Regions from separate parts of the Homo sapiens genome. Here region 2 is linked to region 1. The links come from fine-mapping of genetic effects on plasma protein levels. A gene starts in region 1. The other region holds a variant in brackets. All regions are shown on one strand. Distances are from middle to middle. Region 1 holds the start of GXYLT1 (glucoside xylosyltransferase 1). Region 2 overlaps GXYLT1 (glucoside xylosyltransferase 1).

Evidence for each region. PIP is the posterior inclusion probability: the model's chance that the variant is causal. Protein levels are from the aptamer-based SomaScan assay of Sun 2018.
Region 2: its variant is fine-mapped to the plasma level of the GXYLT1 protein (Sun 2018, PIP 0.95).

What each region holds. Positions count from the first base shown.
Region 1 is chr12:42,141,377-42,149,715 of GRCh38, reverse strand. GXYLT1 (glucoside xylosyltransferase 1) reads left to right here and starts at 4,842. Exons shown (of 8, transcript NM_173601.2): 1 at 4,842-5,290. The coding sequence starts at 5,070. RefSeq lists an enhancer at 4,415-4,484 and silencers at 4,645-5,144, 5,225-5,454.
Region 2 is chr12:42,121,969-42,130,307 of GRCh38, reverse strand. GXYLT1 (glucoside xylosyltransferase 1) reads left to right here. Exons shown (of 8, transcript NM_173601.2): 2 at 457-549. Among named protein-coding and RNA genes, the nearest start is that of GXYLT1, 19 kb to the left of the region's middle. The variant T/C (reference allele first, on the strand shown) is at 4,280.

The DNA.
Region 1 (8,339 bases):
GATCCACCCACTTCGGCTTCCCAAAGTGCTGGGATTACAGGCATAAGCCACCACACCTGGCCTATGGGTGTTTTAATTCAAAATTTCGTCATGACTAAATTTCCCTACAAATCTAGCTTTATATTTTACTGACAATTTTTTTTGTTTGTTTGTTTTTGTTTTGAGATGGAGTCTCACTCTGTCAGCCAGGCTGGTATTCAGTGGTGTGATCTTGGCTCACTGCAACCTCCACCTCCTGGGCTCAAGTGATCCTCCCACTTCAGCCTCCCGAGTAGCTGGGACCACAGATGCACAGCACCATGCCCAGCTAATTCTTGCATTTTTTATAGAGACGGGTTTTCACCATGTTGCTCAGGCTCATCTTGAATTCCTGAGCTCAAGTGACCTTCCTGCCTTGGCCTCCCAAAGTGCTGCGATTACAGGCATGAGCCATTGCGCCTGGCCGTTACTATTTTTTAAAAATAATATATTCTGTTTTACTAATCGGTATGCAGGGTTCTTGAAGTTTGAACCAGGGAGAAATAGAGGGACATCCAGAGGATATTCCTCGTTCTCTTTCCCACCTAGCCCACTGTACACTTTCCCTACCTTGTAGATGGAAATGTCAGCGAAATTCTGGTATCATATAGGAGGTTAAGGCATCCTCATTAATTAGTTTTCCACCGCTTTTCTTTTTTCAGTTTAAATTATTTATTTATTTTTTAATCTTTCACTACTTCTTTTTCTACTCTTGTGGCCTGTAGCAACGTGTTTTTAAGAATGAAGAGCATCACTTTACTCTTTCATCCTTCCTCTGACTCTTTCCCTACAGTTACTGGTCTGAATGAACACATAAAATGAGATTTTTGTGCAAACTAAACATTATTTTCCAACTTTTCCTCCAGTCCAACAAAGTCTCTAGGAATTGGACTGTGGAAAATGGGGAAATATACTAGAAGCCCACTAGCGGAGAGAATGAATTTTACTTTTAGCCTGAGTTTCTGATTCTTTGTGCTCTGCTACTAATCTGACTTGCATTTCACTGATTGTAAATGTTGTTTTAGACTCTAAGATCAGTCTGAAAGATTTTCATATAACATTGGTTCCCTTTTTGCTTTCAATTTGAATTTGTACCACTCCATTTAGTGCTTATTTGTTCCTAGTGAGATAGCATGGCGTAATGGAAAAGAACAAGAAATAGAAATCTTAGAGGATTTCTATCTGAATTTTGGATCTTATTATTAACCATGTGGTAAATGAACATTTCTGAATTTCAGGCTGTTTGCTTTTTTTGGGGGGGGATTGTTTTTATTTTTAAATTTTTCTTGCTATCTGTGGTCACATCTCTATCAGGCTCGTTTTTTTTTGTTTTTTTTGTTTTTTTTGTTTTTTTTTTAGAATAGAATAACATCTCCTACTTCATAGGAATGCTATAAAGATTAAATTAAACTTTTTTTTTTTTTTTTTTTTTTTTTTTTTTGTAGAAAGAGGGGTCTCATTATATTACCCAAGCTGTTTTTGATCTCCTGGCCTCAAGCAATCCTCCCAGCTCCACCTCCCAAAGTGCGGGGATTACAGGTGTGAGCCACCGTGCCCAGCCAAGGATTAAATTCCATTATGCATAGACCTTTATAAAATGGAAGTCATGCAAAAAGGTTTTTTTTTTTTTCCTGCAAAAAGAGTTTTTGAATTTTACTCTGAAAAGGTGTAGAATTTAACTTTCTCCATGTCTTTTTTTTTAAGGAATCAAGTACTTAAGGTAGAAGTGTAAAGAAAATGCTGAGCAGGCCCCCAAATCTGCTCTAGACTGATTTAGAGAAGACATTTTAAAAAAATGAAAATGGGAGCCGGGCGCAGTGGCTCACGCTGTAATCCCAGCACTTCGGGGAGGCCGAGGTGGGTGGATCACGAGGTCAGGAGATAGAGACTATTCTGGCCAACATGGTGAAACCCCGTCTCTACTAAAAATACAAAAAATTAGCCGGGCCTGGTGGCACGCACGCGCTTGTAGTCCCAGCTACTCAGGAGGCTGAGGCAGGAGAATCACTTGAACCCGAGAAGCGGAGGTTGCAGTGAGCTGAGATTGTGCCACTGCACTCCAGCCTGGTGACAGAGCAAAACTCCATCTCAAAAAAAAAAAAAAAAAAAGAAAACGCCCATTAATTGAACGCCTATTATATATCCAGGATGTACTAAGAGCTATACGAAAAATCAAGATTAATCTTTTAAATATAAAATTATTGAGATGTGGCTTAATTCTGAATCAGAGAATTTTCCAGATCATGGAGATCTCTATCTCCTAAACAACAAATATTGATAATTTTAAATTACTTTTTCTCCACCTAAATTTACCTATTTGATACGATGAATGAAGGTCAACATGGATTAAAAATTTGGATATCAGTCTATCATTAGAGAATTAAGAGACTGGTATAGAGAGAAAAAAATAGATTTAGGAATACATACCTTCACGCAGTACATGGAAGAAACACCTAACTGTTGTGACATCAAATATGTTAAAGCGCTTTCATTAACTTAATTTTAGGAATATCAAAATGCAACGTGTAAATCCGGTTAATAATTAGAGGGGATGCCAGCATGCACACAGCTCCTCCAAGATAGCCAGTTAAGATGATGTGTGAGTAATAGAAAAATCATTTCTATTTTTGGAATGGTTTATATAATTTTTCAACAGAAAATTACAGGATTAGAAGGAACCTAAAAGGATGATATGGTCCAGTACCCTGACGTCAATAAATGAGTGGCTATTTTTCCTGATTTGCTCTTTTCATAAAATTGTTGCAGAAATGAAAACTGCTTGCCTTCTCTTTTTGCCATTCCATTATTTTAACCATCTGTGGGTCAAGGAGTTATTCTTAATTATTACTACGTTTAGTTTCTTTGTTGAAATAGAGAAGAGTTATAGTTAGTATCTTTTAAATTAAACATTTTTTGAGTACTAGCTCTTACTCTAGTTTCTTGGTACCATATCTTTCAGCTTTCTCTCAAAAGGTATTTTCATTCTTATCAATGCTTTTCCTATCATTCTGGATACTTCGTTAAGTTTATCTTCATTTCTCTAAGAAGTGTAAGGTGTAGTGGAAGTATTAATTTAGTATACTTGTGGTTTCTATTTGCCTGTTTTCCCTTTGAGAGCAGTACACTCCTTTTATTTCTGAATACTCTGCATCAGAGCCCCTTGTCTGGCATGTAGAATATGTTCAATAAATGTTTATTGAATGCATAAATGTATGTTCTCATTCTCTTTACACATCTTGATAGCATGCTAATGTTCATTTTTTATCAGGTAAAGCAAGAAGGGGAGGAAGTTGAACCTTAAATTTGTTTAGTGACTTTATCATGGTCACAGAACCACTACTTTTTTGGTATAGGGAGCCAAGGATCCAAATGGAGACTGCTACTATTTTGCGCAGCATTTCCCCACCTTGTATCTCATGGCCAAACTTTTCAACGCCCCAGATGCAATTTCAGCAGTTAAACGCATGATTTTTCCCCATGAATGTGTGTTCGTGTGTGTGTGTATTTTTAAGTATCCCTTCCCTCACTTTTTGGCACTGGTGCTGCTTTCTGCCTCCAATCTCTCCTCTCTCTGTTTCAGCCTCCACACTACAGCCAGAATCTGCTCTCTAAAATGCAATTGTGATCATGTTACTTCCCTATTTAAAAACCCTTCAATGGTTCACTAATGTCTTGCAGATTAAATTCAAACTCCTTGGTGTGCTAAACAAAGCACTCAAATATCTGGCCCCTTCTACGCGCTTATCGCTCATCATACCCTCTCTTGCATTCACTTAGCTGGTGGTATCAAACTTCTCAACAGTTCCCTACACAAGAGCCTGTTTATTGATCCTTCAGCCTGGAATTACTTCCCTTACCCGACTCAAGACTCTAGCGCCACCTTTGCTATGAAGTCTCTCTTGACCATACTCACAGATAGAACTGATTGTTCCTTTGTGTGTATGCCCACACCCTTACAGGCCTGGATCTTAAGTCTGTTATCACTGCGTTGCGCTTATTTACAAGTATCCGCTGTCCCACCCACGCTCCACTTAGGCCTCTTTATACCCCTAGGTACTCACACAGAGCTTGGCACAAGTGATGCTTTATAAATGGTCAATGAATGAACGTAGTGGAAACACAGAAGAAGAGGGAGAAGAACTGGGGAAGAAAGAAGCTCTGTGGAGAGAATACTAATTGTTTTGCACATGAAAATAATGAGTTGTGAGGGAGGTCAAAAAGGTCAAAGGGAAGAGCCCTGCCTTACAGGAACTCACTGTCTGCTGGGAGGCAAGAGGTAAGGTCCGCATACCAAACACACGAAGCAATGAGCTTATCGGGGTGAAAATGGCTCGTGCACATTATAGTATCACAGAAACTTAGAGGCTGGGGGAGGATGGAGAGGAAACTGGCCTAGTCAAGTGTCTTCTAAGTGTTAGGCGGTTTTCGAGCGTTAAACAGTTTAATCTTTACAACCACCCCATGATGAGGATAGTAGCTCCATTTTAGGGACGAAGAAACATGCTCAGAGAATTTAGGTTGCCCAATGTCACAAACTACCATGTGGAAGGACCATAATTAGAATTTAGGTCAACTGCCTCCAGAGCCCTGAGGCTTTCGCTCCCCCTCTCTCGGCGGTCGAGACCCACAGGGCTCCCATTCACCTGCGCGTCGGCCTGCGCTAGCTATAGCCCTCAGGCGCGCCGCGTTCCGCGCACTCACACCACCCTCTGCGCGCCAGCCCTGCGTCCCTCCCACGCGAACTGCGCCGGCGCGTCCAGCCCTCCCGCCCGGGGGAGGGGCGGGGTTGCGTCGCTGCCGCTGACCCTTGAGCGCGCGGCGGCAGAGGCGGTGTCCAGGCTTCCGGGCGGGTAGTCCTTCGGCTCCGGAGCCGCGACTGCGCTCGCCTAGGTGGTGGGCGGGGAGGGAAGGAAGGGAGCGGGCGCAAGGCGGCGGCGGCGGCTGCGGGTGAGGAACTTGTTGCGCCCGCGGCTGCGCGGTGCCCCTCCCTCCGCTCCAGTTCGTCGGGGCGGGCGCGGCGGCGGCGGCGAAGGAGGAGCGCGGCCGGGGCGATGCGGCGCTACCTGCGCGTCGTGGTGCTGTGTGTGGCCTGCGGCTTCTGCTCGCTCCTTTACGCTTTCAGCCAGCTCGCCGTGTCCCTGGAAGAAGGAACGGGCGGCGGTGGCGGGAAGCCGCAGGCCGCGGTGGCTTCCTGGCTCGCGGGCGGCGGACGCGGCGCCGTGAGAGGCGCCGGCGTCGCGGGCCCCGCAGCGCATCCCGGCGTGTCGGACAGGTACGGGCAGTTCCCGGTGTGGGGGACGCGGCGGGCGCGGGGCGCTGGGCGCGGGCTCGGCCTAGCCCGGGCTGCTCGCCGGTGGGTGCCGCGTCTCCCGCGTCTTTCCTCCTGTCTCTGACCCCTCACTCATTTCCCTCCTTCCCCTCCGGCCGGGGCTAAACCTGCGCTGCTCCCGCCTGAGAGTGTCCTACACTTTCTGTGTTTATCTTTTGACCCAGTCATGCGCCCTTTAAAGCAGTTAGAAATTAATTTTCAACTTTTTAAAAAGAGGGTTCTTTGAAAATAAGAGGTGTCCACAAAAGCCTTACTGCTGCCTGGCTAGTGAGAATTTCCTCTTGTTTCAGTGGAGTTCAAGTTGAGATATTTAAACATGAGGCTGGCGCCCTAGTTCAGTGTTTAAGGATTGTGTGTGTGTGTGTGAGTGTATATGTGTGTGTATTTTGTCCCTCATGCTGATTTTCCTGTGTTAACGCTTACACTTCTAAGTATTAGCCATGGTTAGTTAAATTTGGAAATGGCATTTGTGCGGGTTGTGAAATTTTCTTTTGGAAACACTCAGTTTATTAAGAAACTTAGAGCAAATTAAGAAAAATGAGCGATACTTGGCGTGCTCAAGTCTGTTGTTGGATGGGATGGAGTTACCTTTCTTGACAAATTGGTATTTAAAAAGCGACGTAATGACTTAGGACGTAATCACTGCCAGAGTGGGAATCAACATGAGATTTAAATAGAAAAAAAATGTTTCTGTCAACGCATTATGAATGCTTGAAATCTGAGCGTTTGCACTGCCTTGCAACATGGACACTTCCACCTTATGTATGGGCATCTCTCTGGGAATGACCTGAAGTGCTCCCTACCAAGACTTGGCAAATGCTGCTTTGATATAGAGAAGTATAGGGTTTGTCGGAAGAGGGAGTATAGATCAGTTGTGGGCTGTTGTTTAACATCATTTTGAGAGTCGATGGTCATTCCCAGAATGAAAGGGGAAAGTTTGGGCAGAGGAGCAGCGTGGAAAGCGGACTTGTCATGTTTTTACCCTGAGATTTGATTACAGTCAGGGTAATTCCTACATCAGGACCCTCAGTTGTCTGTCCTGGGAGAAAGCAGTCACTGAAGACTTGAATGAGCTCGTGAAAAATGACAGGTTGAAGCTAAACTGTTTATGGCCTAGTATGTTATTGTGAAGCATTTGCAATTATGGAAAAGGAATTATTTTTATATGGGGTAGAATTGTAAGGAAGCAACATTTTAATTAAATATTGAATGAAATTAGACTGATGTTAACATCACATTTTTAGTGCCTTGGTCTTAGATATTTTATTTTGTGACAGAAATTTACAAATTTTGTTTGCTTGACCAGCTAATTTTAATAAAATTATTTGAAATTTTCGAAAATAGCCTCAGTTTTAATAAACATCCAATATAATCATTACTGAAACGTTAAGTTTTATGTGTCAGGATTGAGTCAACCGAAATACTGTACTTTTTTAGGTCCTTTGAGTAGCATTACTCTTTATTTTAAATGAGGCGTACATCTAAGTTAGAACTATAGGTGTATTTATCTCTCTTTGTAAAAATGTGATGAAGAACAGCATGTCACCACATTTGCGCGCATAAGAAACCATTTGGGCAGGGGAACAACGTGGAAAAGTTGGATTGTGAAGTTTTACTCTATGGTTAGATTAAGATCACGCAAATTACTAAGACCTCAGGACTCTATTTTGTATATCGTCATTTATAACATCTTTATAGAAATGTCATAGAATTAAATCAACTTTTGGCAACGCTCGGTAGCTCACGCCTGTAATCCCAGAATTTGGGGAGGCTGAGTGGGGATGATTGATTGCTGGAGGCCAGGAGTTTGACACCAGCCTCGTCAACAACCCATCTTTACAAAAAATAAAAAAATTAAAAAAAAATTAACTGAATGTGGTGTTTCACACCTGTAATCCCAGCACTTTGGGAGGCTAAGGTGGGAGGATCACTTGAGCCCAGGAGTTCAAGGCTACAGTGAGCTATGATTGCACCAGTGTAATCCAACCTGGGTGACAGAGCAAGATCCTGTCTCAAAAAAAAAAAAAAAAATTAACTTTTTTGGCCACCATGAGATACGGTATAGAAATCCCTAACCTCTTCATGTATAAATCATTTGGCCAAGATCCAAAGCAAATCAGTGTTGGAGGAGGATTAGAAACTGTATCCTTGGAGTGTTATACAAGAGCTCTTTCTGTAAAGAAAGATAAGGGTCTAGTTTAGATAGTGGACTCAGTGGGCAATGGGGCTATGGGGCAAGCCAGCAGCTTCCTCTTTTCAGTAGTACTTAGGTATTATTGCATTTTTGCCTTTTTTGATAACATCTTACTTGAAAGATTATAACTATTTCTCTCTTTTTATTTTAAACACGGGATCTAGGTTTGTACCCAGTAAGTTCCATTGGTCAGATCTTATAAAAACTATTCATGGTATAGAATTTCATGACGACAAAAGACTTGGAGTCCTTGAAGTAAGAACTTTAAAATGAAAGGAACAGTTTTTCAGTGGAATCTCTTATCCGTTAGTGTATTCTGTTTGAAGCCATGATTTTAATAATCAGAAAATACATGGGTCTTGTAGTCAGATAAACCCGTGTTCTCAGTATTCTGGCTCTGGTTGCTGTGAGACTTTGCCTAAATTGTGTCACATGCCTGTGTTTTAATTTCCTCACCTGTAAAATGTAGATAATACTTAAATTTTTTTAGCTTTAGTAGGGTATAATTGATAAATAGAAACTATATGTTTAAGGCATAGAACTTGATAGTTTGACATACATATACATTGAGAAATGATCACAGTTAAGCTAGTTAATATCATCACTTCACATAGGGTTTTTTTTTTTGTGGTGAAAGCACTAAAGATCTACTGTCTTAGCACATTTTAGGTATACTGTACACTTTGTTAACTATAGTCATCAGGCTGTACATTAGATTACCTTACTTAATTTGTAATAGAATTCTTAGTTGTCTTTGATGAAAATTCAGTAAAACTATCTCAAGCAAAACATATTTAT
Region 2 (8,339 bases), 19 kb after region 1:
GATTGAGGATTAATTTAAAAGCATTTAAAGATCTTCTTTTCCCTTTCTGCCAGTATTGGTGGCATTTTTATTATGTTTGAGGATAAGCAAATATTTTGTTTGTCCCAAAGGGATTTTGTTCTAGGGGTATATGTGTAGCCTGTGAAGAAAATTTTAGAAGACATATTTGTCTGTGTTATCTGAGGAGGGGATTTTATCAGGAGACTCTCCGACGGAAACACTGTTTCCCAATCTATAGTATAGTCTACCTTCAGGGTTTTAAAGTTCTATTTAAAATAATGGTGCCCTAAGTAAGGGAGAAATCAGTTTTCCAAAATCTTTATCATAGCAATTTGGATTTATAATTTTATTTGCTTTAAAATAGAACAGTAAGTTATCGTGTTACTGAGTAAATTCCTTGTTAGTTCCAAACCAAAATACTCACACAGGACTCTTATTTCTGTCTTACTCTGTTAGGTGTAAAGATTTCTCTCTGTGTTACTGGAATCCCTATTGGATGCTGCCCTCTGATGTTTGTGGAATGAACTGCTTTTGGGAAGCGGCTTTTAGGTAGGCACTTAATATTTAATTGGTAGATCAGTGTAGATAAGGTTAGATAGTTGATAATAAAACCTTTGTAATAGGATGTAAGAATGTTTCTTATGATATTATACAAATAATTTATTTTCTTATTGGGTTTTCTATTTTTCCCATTTTGTAGTTGTTATTGCTATTTTTTAGTACATACTGTGTATAAATGCTTTAAATTTTCTTAGATGTTATTAAGACAAACCACTGTTCTTAAGAGAATTTATGATCTAACTTTTGGTAACAGTTGATAAAGTGATAAACTAGGATAAAAATAGGCTTCTACTGACGTTTACAGATATATCTATATATATAAAATATGGCATTTATCTAAAAGCTTGTGTACTATAGTGGATGGGGACAACTGGAGAAGGATTATATTCGTTATTAGTAGAGAGATTGAATACTGGGAATAGGAGGATAAAGATAAGTATTTAATGGAGGAGCAGATGGAGGAGCAGCTCCTGGCTACTTCTTCCTTTAATGTTTATTGACCTTTTAAGTTACTGACTAGTTCGGCTTTATTCACTTCTCTGGATAATGAAGGTATTGGGTACTCTGACCTCTTAGGTCCCTTCCTGCTCTAATCTAGAATGAAAGAAACAGGTATTGATAAGAATACGATAAGGCAGTGACTCTCAGACTATCTCCCTGATACAGTGGCAGAGGAGAGTGGGGCAAAGGTTTGAAATGCTCTTCCCAAGAGTAAAATTCCTTAGAAGAGTATCTATTTACTGCGTCTTTATGATTCATTTAAATAGTCTAGGTTGGGTATGGTGGCTCACGCCTGTAATCTCAGCATTTTGGGAGGCTGAGGCGGGAGTATTGCTTGAGCCCGGGAGTTCAAGACCAGCCTGGGCAACAAAAGCAAGACCCTGTCTCTACAAATTTTTTTTTTAAATTACCCAGGCATGGTGGCATGCGCTGGCTTGGGTGGGAGGATTGCTTGAGCCGTGGAGGTTGAGGTTGCAGTGAGCTGTGATGACGCCACTGCTCTTCAGCCCAGAGCAAGACCCTGTCTCAAAAAAACAAATAAAATAAATATTAATTCTACTCATTATATTTGCCACACGCTGTGCTAGGTGGTAAGCACTGGACTCTTGGGTCAGGTTAATTGTGGCTCCATCCTTTTGGAGCTTACGTTCTGATGGGAGTTTCACACTAGTAAACCTGAAATTACAATAGAGTGTGACAAGTTGTTGCTATGATGAGTCATCTTAAAGCATCAGGGAAGACTTGGAGGGAGTGACCAGATGATGATCTGGAAATTAGCTAGTTTCAAGGACAGGAGGTGAAGTGTTTGAGATAGGAAGAACTTCATTTTTAAAAACTTTTAATTAAAAAATTTATTTTTAATTGACAATAATTCTATGTATTTATGGGGCATAAAGCGATGTTTTGGTGTCTGTATATATTGTGGACTGATTATATCAAGCTCATTAACATGTTTATCATCTTACATATTTATCTTTTTTTTGTAATGGGCACATTTAAAACCTATTCTCTTCGCAGTTTTGAAATAAACATAATTATCTGTAGACACCTTGCTGTGCAGTAGATCTTGAGAACTTATTCCTTCTGACTGGAAGTTTGTATTGTATTCTTTGGTCAACATCTTTCCATCACATACTCTCTCCCACCCCTTCACCTCCAGTGCCTGGTAACCACCATTCTCCTCTCTGTAAGAACTGCATTGTAAGTATCTATTAATTGTACATATTTGTAAATTCTTGCATTCTCAATACAGTATGCATCCCATGAAGAACTGGTGGGGAATAGGTTCAAATCAGATAGTTTAGTTATATCCTGTTGCTGTGGAAGAGATTGGGTGATTGAAATTTTAATATGAGCCAAGTAATATTCCAGCTTTTAAAAATTAACTTTTAAAGATAATCTAACCTTTCAGTTTGGTTATACTTTTGGATAATTGAAGTTTTGTATGTTTTCATTCTTACGAATATTTGCAAATGAATATAGTATTGACAAGAACCACTTTGCCTTGCCACATAATTCCACTAGCTTGAAGCTGGGTAAACTTGAAAAGTTCAGCATACTCTGATTTATACAACCCAGACCCTTTTGTAAATTACAGCGTGAGTAATAATAATCTTTCCTCCTTACTGACTGCAGGAGTGTCCCAGGGAAATTTACCTAGTCGGAATCCTGGACTCTCTGCTTACCATTCCTTTTGTTTTGGCTCCTCTAACTCATTTTCCTAATGCTCCCAAGTATTCCGTGGAATAAATCATATGTGGATGGATACATAATGTTGTAAGCCTTGTGCCTGTAACCTAAATTTGAGACTTCAGAAGTTATATGCCTTTCCTCTGTTATACTTTCTACCCGTAATATTGCATCCATTATATCATGCTATTACATTTAAAAAAAGCAAACATTTTGTGTCATATAATTATGTAAAAATTTCTCAAACTTAGTTTCTTATTTAGAACTAACGATTCCCTCACATTTAATCACCCTATTTCAAATATGCATACAAGCCCAAATGCCATACAACTGCCAAATCATTCTTGCCCTCCATCTCAGTATCTACTTTAATACTGGTAAAGCTTCTTTGGAATTCCCCTTTACTACCACTTTTGATGTCACATTCTGCCTGGCACCAGGGGGCCCTTAGTTGGGTACCTTACTTTCCCAACTTGAATTATTTGTATAACTTTGATCAAATATTATTTGGGTGATCATATTCTCCCAATTAATTTATTATACAGTGAACATAATATAAAAACTAAAATGGCCTCAACTCCTATTACAAGTGTTTTCATCATTCATATCATCATATGCTTTTACATAGTTGTGATTCTGGTGTAGACTAATCTTGAATTTTTTTTTTTTTTTTTTTCTTGAGACAGGGTTTCACTGTCTCCCAGGCTGGAGTGCAGTGGCATGATCTTGGCTCACTGCAACCGCTGCCTCCTGGGCTCAAGCGATTCTCCTGCCTCAGTCTCCTGAGCTGGGACTACAGGCATCTGCCACTGCGCCCAGCTGTTTTTGTAGAGAGGGGGTTTCACCATGTTGCTCAGGCTGTTCTCAAACTCCTGAGCTCAGGTGATCTGGCCGCCTCGGCCTCCCAAAATACTGGAATTACAGGCATGAGCCACCGCCCCCGGCCTAATCTTGAATCCTGAGCTTAAAATTTTAATACTTTTCAGTGTAGTATGGTCTTCATATTTCTCATGTCAATGGCAACACACTATTCCATTGCCTCTCAAAGTGCTGGAATTATAGACATGAGCCACTGTGCCTGGCTTTATGTCTTTAAAACAAAATCAAAAATCCCTGCAACAGTTTGTTTTCAATCCTCTCTTTCCCTTCATCAGCAAGCTTCTTTTGAGTACCTCCCTACTGGCTGGAGGGGTGTGGCTCACGCCTGTAATCCCAGCACTTTAGGAGGCCAAGGCGTGCCGATCGCCTGAGGTCAGGAGTTCGAGAGCCAGCCTGGCCAACATGGTGAAACCCCGTCTCAACTAAAAATACAAAAATTAGCCAGGCATGGTGGCGCGCAACTTTAGTTCAAGCTACTTGGGAGACTGAGGCACGAGAATCGCTTGAACCCGGGAGGGAGAGGTTGCAGTGAACCAATACCACACCGCTGCACTCCAGCCTGAGTGACAGAGTGAGACTCTGTCTCAAAAAAAAAAAAAAAAAAGTTCCTACTGGTTTTGCTTCTGGGTTTTGTTTGGTTTGTTTGTTT[T/C]TTTGAGATAGTCTCACTTTGTCGCCCAGGCTGGCGTGCAGTAGCACCACCAGGGCTCACTGCTGCCTGGACCTCCTGGGCTCAAGTGATCCTCCTGCCTGAGTCCTCTAAGTAGCTGGGACTACAGGTGCATGCCACCATAGCCAAATAATTTTTTTTTTTAATATTAGTGAAGACAAGGTCTCGCTGTCTCGCTATGTTGCCCAGGCTGGTCATGAACAACTGAGCTCAAGTGATCCTGCTGCCTTGGCTTCCCAAAGTGCTGGGATTACAGGCATGAGCTACTGTGCTCAGCCTTGGTTTTACTTCTTTTAATAAAAAGAACTTCACACCTCAGCTGTCTGCCACCTGACTCTTACTGTCATCACCCCACCTCTGAATTATTGTTCTGGGGCTTAATTTTATTTCTCTTACCCATTTGACACTGTTTACTACTTCCTTTTTCTGTCAGCTCTGTTAGCCTCTGGCTTTTGAGACCAGACCAGTTACTCAGCTCTTTGATCTCTCTCCTCCTGGACTCCTCTAACGCTGCTTTCTAAATGATCTGCATTTCTTAGGACTCTGCTCTTTTCTCTCCCCATTCCCTGAATAGTCACAGGATAATTTGTTTAACTGATAGCTCCAATTCAGAGTTCTTTTCTGAGAGCCAGACCTGTATTTCTAGTTGCATATTGGTCATTTTTACCTTTCTGATTCAAATGCCTCAGAGACTCATGTTCAAACCTGAACTCATGCTCTAGCTCCTCAGACTTTCCTTCATCTGTGTTTTGTATCATGTTTACAACGGACTTTCTCCACATGTCAGTCTACATTAACTCTTCTTGTCTCCTTTCACACTGTTGCTCCTGGCTGCTTGCTTCCTTCCTTCTCCCTTAACCGTTGTACTCATCATTTCCCAAACAATTATAGTCTCCTCTCACTGCTCACTTCATCTCCCTTCTCTGTCTCCTCTTGGTTATTGTATTTACCGCATTTGTTGTGACTGTGAATCTTCATCCACTTCTAGACCGTTAACTCTGCAGGCTGATACCATATGGTGTTATCATTTAAGTCTCATGCCTAGCAAGGTGTTTGGCAACCAGTGAGAAACAAATGATTAACAGGATCATTTGTCTGGGAAGCTTTCCCCAATACCAGGTTAGATGTTTGCGTTGTGAGCCTCTTTAGCAATCTCAGTTTTTTTCTATTAAAACAATTACCATGCTTTCTTATTCTTTTAAAAATCAGTCTTTTCACAACAGGCTACAAATTGTATAAGGTGAAGATTGTGGCTTTCTTGCCTACCCCAGTGCCCATATGAAAGGAGTTCAAATATTTTTTAAAAAGAATGAATTATATCACTAAATTGTGTTTTAAAAATTATATGGCTGTAAGCCTGCACCAGCATTGTGTGAGTGTACTTGGGGTCATCATAACCTTAGCATTATTGGGAATTATAATTTTATCACTTATTAAAATGATAGCTTTTTGTTGATTATTTGTTGAATGTATTTCCACATTTAGTTAGCTTTTTTCTTTTGTTCTGTATATCATCTATTTGATATTGATAGTTATCTATTGAATTTTTAATGTTTATTTTATGAACTCTTAGAATAATATGTTCGGTTTTGCCATTGATTGCAAATAAGTTTCTAATTTGTTTTTTTATTTTACTTTCATTATACAAACTCTAAATTTTAGAATTATCAAAATATCAGAAATATTTTGTTTTAATGTACTAATTTTTCTATGACTTTAGTTTTTAAAAAAATCAGTTCTTTAAAATATTGAATCTTCTTTATGGTGGGAATTGATTTTAGATTTGTGAATTCTGTGGTCATAGGTGAATTTAATATTAGCTGTATTATTTTGAGTAGTTCATACCAGTTTTAAGAGATATATTTTCACTGGTTATTTAAAATTATATTTTAGAAGTTAATACTTATATTTCATGTTGGATTTTTAGATTTTTTTAATGCTTTATATAAAAATCCTAGCTTTTTTTTTTAAGTATTTTGTTTTGAAAGTGTTTTATATGTAACTCATGAAAGTAATTTTGCCTGGTATGATAATTTAGCACAACTCTTTTTTTTTTTTCTTTCTTTTAGTCCATTATGTGTTGCTGGGAACAACTCTTTTAATAGTAAGAGAAAAAGGTGTTGTTTTTCTTTTTAAGCATAACAGGTTAAGCAAAAAAGCTTTCCATTTTGTTCAACTGCAAGTTTTTAAAGATAGCTTCATGGCAGTTCTTTTTTAGTTTTAGTAGATGGTTATTTGAAATTTAATTGTTTAATTTGACTTTATATACTTCAATGGTAGTTTGTAGTCTAATTATGTATCTCTTTAAATAGGGAATACTAATTTAATAATAGGCTATAAGAACACACTGGAGATCATACTGTGAAATAAAACAAAATCAAAAAAGTTATTATGATTCCTTTATAGCAGAAATTTACTTAAAATAAGAAGTCAATTCTTAAGACTTAGAAGTTTATTAACAGTATTTGCATCTAAATTTGTTATGTAAAGCATTCTTTTTTTATGATAAACCCCTACCTCCTAAATTTTTACTTTGATAAATTTCAAATATGCAAAGGTTACAAGAATAGTACAGTAAGCATACCATACATTTTTTACCTAGATATTTATTATTAACATTTTACCACTTTTCTTTTTCTGCCAAACCATTTGAGAGACAGCAGGCATTAGGACACACCCCTAAATACATAGATTCAGCATGTATCTCCTAAGAACAGGGACATACTTTAATACAGCCATAATTGTCACTTTAAGTTATTTAACACTTTATAGAATATATATTCCTATTCCTATTTTCTTATTTTCCTGTTAATGTCCTTTGTATCTTTTCCTCCCCATTCAGGACCCAGTCAAGGACCATACATTGCATTCAACTCAGGTTGAGTTAGTCTCCTTTATTCTAGAACTGTTCCCCAGCCTTTTTTGGGGTGAAAAGGGGTGCTGTTATTGGTATCTTTTGTGATATTTTTGTTTTTGTTTTGCAGAATGTCCCTTAATTTTGATTTGCCGACTGTCTACTTATTATTAGATTCAGGATTTTTGGCAGGATTACTGCATGGGATATTGTGTTCTTCTTTGGGCATGCTATCAGGAGACATTTGATGCCTTAAGTTTTAATATTATTAAGTTTGATCACATGGTTAAGGTGATGTTCTTGCATTTCTACACTGTAACAGTGCTTTTATCTCCTTTATAATATATGGGGGAAATATTTTGTTAGTACGTAGTTTTAGCATCCACTGATTATTTTTGTCCAGATTATCTGTTACAATGGTGATTGCAAAATAGTGAATTTTATAATTCTCTCATTTCTTCTGCATTTATTGGTTGGTATTCATCTTTAAAAAAAGAAGAGTTCCCTCTTCTTACCCCTTTATTTAATATCATTTTTTGACGATGTGTTCACTTTTTATTTATTTTTTTGAAAGAGTCTCGCTCTGTTGCCCAGACTGTAGTGCAATGGCATGATTCCAGCTCACTGTAACCTCTGCCTCCTGGGTTCATGCAATTCTCCTGTCTCAGCCTCTCGAATAGCTGGGACTACAGGTGTGTGCCACCATGCCCGGCTAATTATTGTATTTTTAATAGAGACGGGGTTTCGCCATGTTGGCCAGCCTGGTCTCAAACTCTTGACCTCAAATGATTCACCCACCTCGGCCTCCCAAAGTGCTGGGATTACAGGTGTGAGCCACCGTGCCCGGCCAGGGTTCACTTTGTAAATTTAATACACTATCATTCATTACTGTCATACTTTTCATACTCAGGTTATGCCAGCTTTAACCATGGGAACCCTCAGATATTATCTTTGAATCATCTGACGAATTTCTTCTAATTGTATATCTGTAGAAAAATAGGCTTGACTTTAAAATCTCCTCTTCTATTACATTTCTTTAAATCCAGATGGACTTTTCTTTTGTTCATATTGTGACCGAAAGAAAGATTTTTGTAGACCCTGGCAAGATTCCGCCATTCAATTGGGGCCAACATTATTTGAATGACTGCTTCCCTGTAACTGCTTAGAAGGTTTTAGTTATCACTTCCT